2 separate regions of the Homo sapiens genome follow, and region 1 is linked to region 2. Evidence: fine-mapped expression QTL. Tissue or cell type: spinal cord. Region 2 holds a variant in brackets; the other region holds the start of a gene. All regions are shown on one strand. Distances are from middle to middle.

Evidence for each region.
Region 1: LYPD1 starts here. The variant in region 2 is fine-mapped to the expression of LYPD1 in spinal cord (GTEx, PIP above 0.99).

What each region holds. Positions count from the first base shown.
Region 1 is chr2:132,667,913-132,671,912 of GRCh38, forward strand. It overlaps LYPD1 (LY6/PLAUR domain containing 1), which reads right to left and starts at 2,293. Exons shown (of 3, transcript NM_144586.7): 1 at 1,969-2,293; 2 at 488-625. The coding sequence starts at 2,020. It overlaps NCKAP5 (NCK associated protein 5), which reads right to left. Exons shown (of 20, transcript NM_207363.3): 20 at 3,876-4,000. RefSeq lists an enhancer at 1,156-2,119.
Region 2 is chr2:132,586,478-132,590,988 of GRCh38, forward strand. All of the region lies in intron 1 of GPR39 (G protein-coupled receptor 39), which reads left to right. Among named protein-coding and RNA genes, the nearest start is that of LYPD1, 81 kb to the right of the region's middle. The variant G/A (reference allele first, on the strand shown) is at 2,685.

The sequences.
Region 1 (4,000 bases), 81 kb after region 2:
TGCATTAGTTCTAAAATTAAACAAAGATCCTGTAGTGTTCTTCAAGGAAATATGGTGTGCCTCTATGACAAAACACATTTTTCAAGCTCTGACCTCTGGGAGCTTCAACTAGCTCCATATTTCAGGCTGACAATGCTCACAGGCTACTGTCTAGTTGCCCAAGCCAGGGCTGGTTAGCCATATATTTTCTACCTCCATCAGCTTTTAGCATAGGGAGGTGAAGGGAGTAAATAAAAAGAGGAGAGCCACTAATTTACATGCACTTCCCCTCCCAAGACCCTTGGGGAGAAGCCTTGGTAATTAACTCTAATGAGATTAAAGTAACTTGGAACTCTTCATTTTCCCAGCACTGTAAAACTAAATCTGCGATAACCAGTGTGTGGGCATTAAATCAAAGTCAGTCCTTTTTCCTGCTATTTAATGGCCCCCTCACTCCCACCCCACAGCCCAGGCTTAAGAGCGAGGGGGAGGGCTGCCAGGCTCTTACCGGCACTTTGCTCCATCACTTCTTTCTGACACATGTCTTGAACGTTCACCGTGCAATTCACAATGAACTCGGGGGAGGAGCAGTCGTTGTTCAGCTGGAATTCTTCACACTGGTAGCACTGGATTTGCAGCGCAAAGCCTGCGAGACAGACGCAGTCGGGTTCAGATCCGGCCCCCACAGAGCCCACCCCGGAAATCACGACCATCCCACGCCTCAGAGCCAGGCGGCTCCCAGCCTCTGGCAGGCTTAGACCACTCCTGGGTCTCCGGGTAGGGCTGGATGTGGCTGACACCGGCAGGGGGCGGCGCGGGTACCTAGGGTCCTACGGAAGAAAGTGGAATAGTGCCCGCCACCCCTGGACCCCGGCTCTAGACACAAAGCGCCCATCCATTACCACCCCAGGCCTTTTCCCAAGAAGTTGAAGGGAGGGTGGGGACGGTACCACCGCAAGAGTGAAGTAGCTCTGGAGATGTGCGTTAGCTCCAGCCTAAGCCAAAGGATTTGCCTAATTGCTAATTGGTTACAAATTACTTAATTACTATTTTGGCACCATTCGTGATTACATTCGCAGACGTCTTTTTAGTTTTTATTTATTTAATTTTTAAAGTCAGCGTTTCTGTGCCAGGGCTCTGAGGATCCCTGAGCGACCACCTGGGAACAACTTGGGTGGAGGTGCCAGACGCCAAGCGCTGCTGCGCCGCAAGTCCCCGAGCCCGGGTCGGCGGCCCTTCTCCGGGGCCGTCCCCGCGGCGACCCGAATGGCCACAGAGGGTGGGAAAGGGCGTTTGTGAGCGCGCGCACCCTGGATCCCCGACCCCGCAGCCCTTTCTTCCAGGCCCCGGCTTTCAGGACAACCGTTCGACTAGGGTCAGTGGTCGGGGTTCCAGCTCTGCAGAGCTTAGTCGGGAGCCAGTAGGCGAACTGGAGAGAGGACGCGAGACCTTTGCGCCTCTGGACGCTTCGGCCTGGCTGTTCTCGGTGTACGCGCTCCTGTCTAGACCCAACTACCCACGCTCCCGCAGCCCCACATCTATCGCACTCTGAGCGCAGCAACCCAGCTTCAGCGTGGCCGCAGGCTGCCTCGCGCATCGCTCACCTGTCGGCGGCGCCACTCCCACGGGGTGCCGGAGGCGCCAGACAACTTGGCAGGGTTCGGGAGATGTCGCCCCCTCTCCCTCGCCCAGAACCCAGCACCGCTCGGACCCTCCCTCCTCTCAAGCCCAGCTTCTCCCGACGGTGCAGCCGGACAAGCTGCAGCCCGGAGTCCCGCAAACCCGCCGCTCCCCGCTCTCCTCCTGCAGCGCGGGACTTGGACACTTTCCCAGCCTCGCGCCCCGGGGCACCAGTCGCGGCCGCCAACTCCCGCTGGGCAGCCCCAGCGCAGGGCTGGCCCCGAGGTGGGCGCCTTGGGGGCAAAAGGGCTGGCGGGTAGATGGATTGTGCGCACCTGGCCTCGGCTGCTGGCCTCTGGGTATTCTCACCTGGAAGCAAGAACAATCCGCAAAAAGTTGCCGCGATGCCTAGGACCCACATTCTCCCGGAGTCCCGGGGCCGGGAGAGGGCAAGCGCATCAGAGGAGGCGACAGCAGCGGAGGCTGCCCCGGCTGCAGCGGCTGTGGCTGCCGAGGCTGCTGGGGCCCGCGCTGCTGCCGCGGAGACGACGGTCGTAGCTTAGAGGAGCCGCAGGTGCCGCTCGCGGAGCCTGCATCGCCCGCGCTCGGGCTCCCGGCTGCGGGTCTCTGCTCCTCCCGCTCGCGCTCCCGGGCCGAGCACCGCGCCTCCGGAGTTGGCGGCTGAGACTGAAGGAACTACTGGCGATCGGGAGCACCCACAAAAGTCTCGCCTTTTCTCCCCACCTCCCACTCCAGGCATCACGTGACGGCTGCCGAGTTGGGGTGGGGGTGGCGGGCGGGGAAGGCTGGGACGGTCGCTTCACATCCCCACCCCCTTCCTGTCTTCCTCTTCTCCCGCCTCCGCACGTTCCTGGGAAAGGGGCGCCGGGGGGCGGGAGAGAACTGGTAGTTTTCTGAGATGGGGAGGTTGGGGGAGCGGCGAGGAGGGCGCAGCAGGTGCCGTGGGGACCTGCCGGGTGCGGACTAGGGTCTGAGGACTGCGTGCCCGGCTGGCCCTTCGCACATAGGAAGGCAGCCTCCCCACTCCACGTCCTCTGCGCCTTCCAGGACTGGTCGGTACCCCAGCGACTGGGTCCAGCCCACACAACTGAGGCTGTCCCGCTGCGGGCCGCGGGAGCCTGGCGCCCCGGGAGGCTGACAGGAAGGGCGCGCGTTCCCGTGCGCCTGGCAAAGTTCCACGCCCGCAGGCTCCGTAGGGTGTCCTGTGCAGCTGTGCCCCCTCTTCCTCCGCGAAGGCCTTCTGTCAAGAACCAGCTCGGCGTGGCCAATCTGGGTGGGGGTGTGGTGGGGACACTGCCTTAACTGTCTCACTTGCCCGGGCCGCCCTCCCTTCTCCCGCCTGCGCGCACCGCTGGAGGGTGCATTGACACCGCCCTGGTCGCCTAGCCTAGGAGAACGCCGTCCCGGGGACACCTGCCGTGAGGTCCTACCAGAAAGCAAATCAGGGTGAGGAAGAGGGTTGTTCTCCTCCATTCCTTGTCTCCCAAACGCCAGCCGGCTCCATTCTGCTTTCCCCAAAGCCACCGATTATTAGCACATACTCCCACGTCCTCTCCTGAAAGGCCATCCCAGCCTCGGACTCGGCCTCTGGCTGCTCCCCACACCCCTCAAATTCGTCTTCTTTCCGCAAAGTCCAAGTGACCCACCTTGCGGACTCCCGGGGATGCCCCGGTGCTATCTTCGCCTTCCTTCCCGAGCCTTGCAGCAGGTGGTGCGGGAGACCGCTTGCCCGCCGGAGTGCGTTGGTGCCCCCGCCCCCAATCCGCACATTCCCATCCCCTTTCCGCACATCCTTAGGGAGCATCCATTTCCGTGGAAATCGCCTCCTAAGCTTTAGCTCCTCTTCACCCTTTTCTCCCCCGGCCACTTCTGGGGGCAGCTCTCTCACGCCGGGACGCTGATCATTTATTTCTGCATCCTCCCAGCAGAGCTGGTCTGTAAAGGGGCTTAAATGACTTTCTTTGTAATTCCTCTGCAGAGATCGTTCCATATCTGCCTCAGGCTCCTTCTCTCCCTCCCTCCCTCCCTCTCCCCCTTCTTTCATTTCTATTTGGTTAACCCCTCGGGGAGACTGAAATGCTTTGACCATTACTCACCTGTCTGCAGACTCTGATCTTACAATTGGCTAAATTACTATCTCTGGAGCAAAAGGGCCAATTTATTTATTCCTTCTGGGAACCCATTGTAAGAGCACGTGTGAGTCATGATTCAAGTAACTGACTGGGCCAAAAGGTCCTTGAGCAAGTTATTTTCTGTTTTCAGAGGGTGCAAATGTGATATAACTTTTATTCAGAAAGGAAACAAAAAGATTTTTTAAAGTCTGAAAGACAAGGACATTTTACATAATTTTCATTTAAGATAAAATAAAACAAATTGCACA
Region 2 (4,511 bases):
CGTGTTTGCTGGTGTCCCTGAGGATGTACCCAAATGAGACACCCTTGGGGCCTTCCCTGGCAATCCTTCCTGACATCAATTTAGCAACATCAACTCCCACTTTCCTGGATAGAGATGGGTTAGGATGTATCCACAGCAGAGCTGCTGAATTCAGGCCTGGCAGGCATCACATTTTATTTTTAAACCACAAGGTGATAGTCTTTAAGCTTATAATTAGAGATATTCTAGAGGAATTCACTCAGACACTTACTGCGTGGTGCACAGTTTGCTGGGTCTTCAAAAGAATATGGTGCTGTCTGAGATTGTAGATATGTGCCCACCATATGGGATTCTCGATGTCTTTCTTCATGTACCTGGTTTCAAATGACTCTCAGCAATATCTCCAACTTCTTCAGGAAATGGAGATAGTTTAGTTCTTTAGGTTTTCTTTCAGGTTGATGTCCATCAGAAAATATCTCTGATGTAATAAGTGGGCTGCAATGGAAAGTAGGATTTTAAAATTTGGGTATCTCTCATACTGTATCAAGAGTTTATATGTTCAATCTGGTTTTCTGCTTGTCAGCATTAAAAGACTGAAAATATGTTTCCACAGTTAAAATTTGTAAAGGTCTTGCGGTAAAGACTGCATTGAAAAGCTTTGGTTCCAGAGAGATTAGGACGGTCCGGGATGATTCTGATCTGTGGTGATTGCTGTGGCATTTCACCAGCATTGTATCTGCTGGAAGTGGGAGCTGTCAAGTCTTTCAGTGAAGTTGTGCAGTTTAAAAAAAGTATCTCCAAACAAACAAAAGCATAGAAACCAAGGTTCTACAGCACATTAGGAGATCTGTGGCTCTTTCGCCATTTCTCCAGTTATTTTTTAGATTACTCTCTGTCATAATAGGCCAAGAACCAGGATACTGTTAAAGAACAACTGCCTCTTGGAGCTGGGGCCAGTGTTAGTGTTAAGGTCCTTCATAAGAAGTGTATATTTGTTGTTACTTGGCTTTGGACTATAGTGAAATACTTTTTAAAATGGGAGTGTCTTTGCTTTCTTGATTAGGTCTTTTCTTTTTTCTTTTTCTTTTCTTTTGAGATGGAGTCTTGCTCTATCGGCCAGGCTGGAATGCGGTAGTGCGATCTCAGCTCACTGCAACCTCTGCCTCCTGGGTTTTTAAGCAGCTCTCTCTGCCTCAGCCTCCCGAGTAGCTGGGATTACAGGCACCCACCACCACACCCTGCTAATTTTTGTATTTTTAGTAGAGATGGGGTTTCGCCATGTTGGCCAGGCTGGTCTTGAACTACTGACCTCAGGTGATCCACCCGCCTCAGCCTCCCAAAGTGCTGTGATTACAGGCATGAGCCACTGCGCCCAGCCTAGATTTGTCTTTAATATATGTTAAAGTAAGTTATTTTTCCATGGCCATGTACTTTCTGGTGATGGAACAGAGAGGGCAGTCTATTATGAACATGAGGAGTTGACTGGAATAATGAATGAAAACCAGCTTTAAGGTTCATGAGTTTCATGGTAAGGGTGCTGAGGTGTCTTACTTGGGCCTTCAGTATGGGTATAACTCATGGAGTATAGGATCTTGACATCCTATTGCAGACTAGAAGGTTCAGCCTGGAAAGAGACTGAAGGTGAGAGGAGGTGGAAAAGAAGGGAAAAGGTGTTTGCGATTGTGATGGAGAAGGTCCTGGAGTTAAAAAAGGCAGGCAGTGGCTAGCAATGTATGGGTTAAAGACCTGTAGCACTGGTCCAGCTCTCCTCTGTACCCCTTTAGTGAGAGGGAGGTTCTCTTCGCACTTGCACCTTCTCCCTTCTCAGCAGAAGTAAGAGCTCTGTATCCCTTGGTGGGAGGGAAGGATGGCCAAGGGTCTTAGTTATTGCAAGATAAACTATCCCAACACTTACTGGTTTAAACCACTACCAATTTATTATGCTCATCATTTCTGTGGGTTAAGGCAGGGCACAGTGAGAATGTCTTGTTTCTGCTTTGTGATGTCTAGAATCTCAGCTAAGAAAACATGGAGGCTGGGGGCTGACTTGATGGCTGGGAGCCTAGAATTATCTGGAGGCTGCTTCACTCTGTGTGTGGGGCCTGGGCTGCTGGGATTTCTGGGAGAGGAGACCGAAGACTGCTTGTCATTTTCCTTCCTTGAAGCATGGTGGCATTGGGAAGTCAGAATTGAAAGTCTGCTTACCTGGAAGCTCAGGGCTTCAAGCTTGAATGTTCCAGTGAACAAGGAAGAAGCTGCATCTTTTCAGACCTGGTGCCAGAGGTCACACACTGTCACCACTATCACATGCTATTCATAGAACCAGTCCCAAGTCCACTGTGATGAGCAGAGGAGGACTGGACTCCACCCCTTCAATGCAAGTGTGTCAAACACACATTGTAGAAGAGGCTGTGGGATGAGAGATGTTTTTGCAGAAACCTTTGGAATCAGCCTCAAATGGGGAGATAGAGAAACCAAGCAGAAAGGGTCTGAGGGCAAACTGGGCCTGCTCTTGCTCTGATCTCCCCTTAGAACAGCTCTAACTTAGACTCTGCAAATGCCTAAACAACTGGTTGGTCAAGTTGATCATATTTTTAAAAACCCATCAGATTAACTATTTGGGGTTGTGTAAGCCAAAGACAAATGGGCTGACTGAGAGCTTTTTCACTGTTCCAAGATTGTTATGTAGGTCCAGGCAAAGAATC[G/A]TGGGACCCATGTCTGCAACAAAAGCTTGGAGGCAGCCTTTCTGGCCATGTCCCCCCCTCCCCATTGCCCCTCTGCCTTCTTGGTTACTAAGCAGTTACCTGGCAACCATGCCTCCTCCACATCGGCTGCCGAGCCAAGAGGCTTAGCCTGTCCTCCCTCAGCTCTCAAGTCTCCCATGGATCACTGGGGACAGGATACATAATGAGATTTTAATTGTCACGTTGAATCAAATCATTTTTTCCATGTGCATAACTTCTAGGCAGAGATGTAATTTCAATTAACTTCGCTTATCTGATAAAACTTTCATATCCTTTAAGCTAATTTCATTTGAACTAATAGGCACTATGCTCCTCTTTGAGTTCCAGCTCAGATGTCTTAGGCAGAGCCGAGATCTCCTGCATACTCGGGCACATTAGAGAGCGTCTGGGCTGTGTGTGCAGAAGTGGCCTCTATGCTTGGACACAGCTAGTTTATGGAGCCTTTCCTTTTGCTTTTCTCACTTGATGAACATTCCTGAAAGCCTATTTGGTTTTATTAGTTTTCAGCTTAAGGGATCAGTATTTCCCAAACAAAAGGTGTCCCATTGCTCTAACTGCCAGAGCCATAAAGATTAAAATTACACTTAACTTGAAGGAATGTCTGTATTTCTCCCTGCTGCTACAGGACCTGGGGCAGCTGGTTCTATCTCAGTGATGAGTTTGAGCATTTGTTTTATTAAGGGAAGGGGGAAGGTGAGAAAGGCATTGTAATTTAATATGTGGGAGAAAAGGGCTGATGTGCCTTAATTTTATTTCTCAGTAACCCCCATGAATGTGCTAGTTCTGCTTAAAGTTCATTTGAACAAAAACATGCCTTTGCAGAAATTAAGCTGCTCTCATTATTTCTTTTCATATAGTAGAATTAAACTTCAAACAGTTTATCATTTGTTCTTTGACATAATACTGAGTTTGGCCAAAACCAAATAACTTGATGCTATTGAGCAACAGAAATTCAAATGCAAAGATGCTGCAAGGTAATGTTTAAACAAACCACACACTGGTCAATTTTTGGATTTCACTGCTAGCATTTTCTGGCTAGCAAGTTTGTTTCTTATCAAATCAAGAAGAGAAATCTAAGGAATGAGAATGAGAGAGAAAGGTTTAGTCAGAAGGAGAAAACACAGTGAGGTTGAAGATACACACACACATGCTTACATGTGCACATTCACACAGATGATGGCTAGGTCCTCAGAGGATCAGCCCTGAGCTTCTAGCCCAGAGTGTCACTGGTTTCCTGTGTGACCTTAGACAAGCACTCAGCCCCTGTTTCTACATGAGTGGAATGAGGAGTGGACTAGGCGCAAGACCTATGGTGGGCTGAGGCTTACTAGTATTTGATTCAAAGCCAAGCAGATGGGGTTGCATTGAGACCACAAGGGTAGGCACTGAGTTTGGGACTTGCCAAAGAAGAGAAGATTAAGAGACTGTAAAAAGAGTCACTTGCTTTAACAGTGGCACTCAAGCCTAAGCACTGTTCCTCATCCTTACTGTCAGCATGATGAGTTTGGGTCTGTCTTTCAGGGATGGACTCCCACCAACCACCTGGGAAGACTGATATATTGTGGTGGTTAATATTGAGTGTCAACTTGACTGGATTGAAGGATGCAAAGTATTGTTCGTGTGTGTGTGTGTGTGTGTGTGTGTGTGTGTGTCTTGTTAAAGGAGATTAACATTTGAATTGGTGGACTGGGAGAGACAGACCCACCCTCAACCTGGGTGGGCACCATCTAATCAGCTGCCAGCACAGCTAGGATAAAAACAGAGGAACAGGCCGGGCGCGGTGGCTCA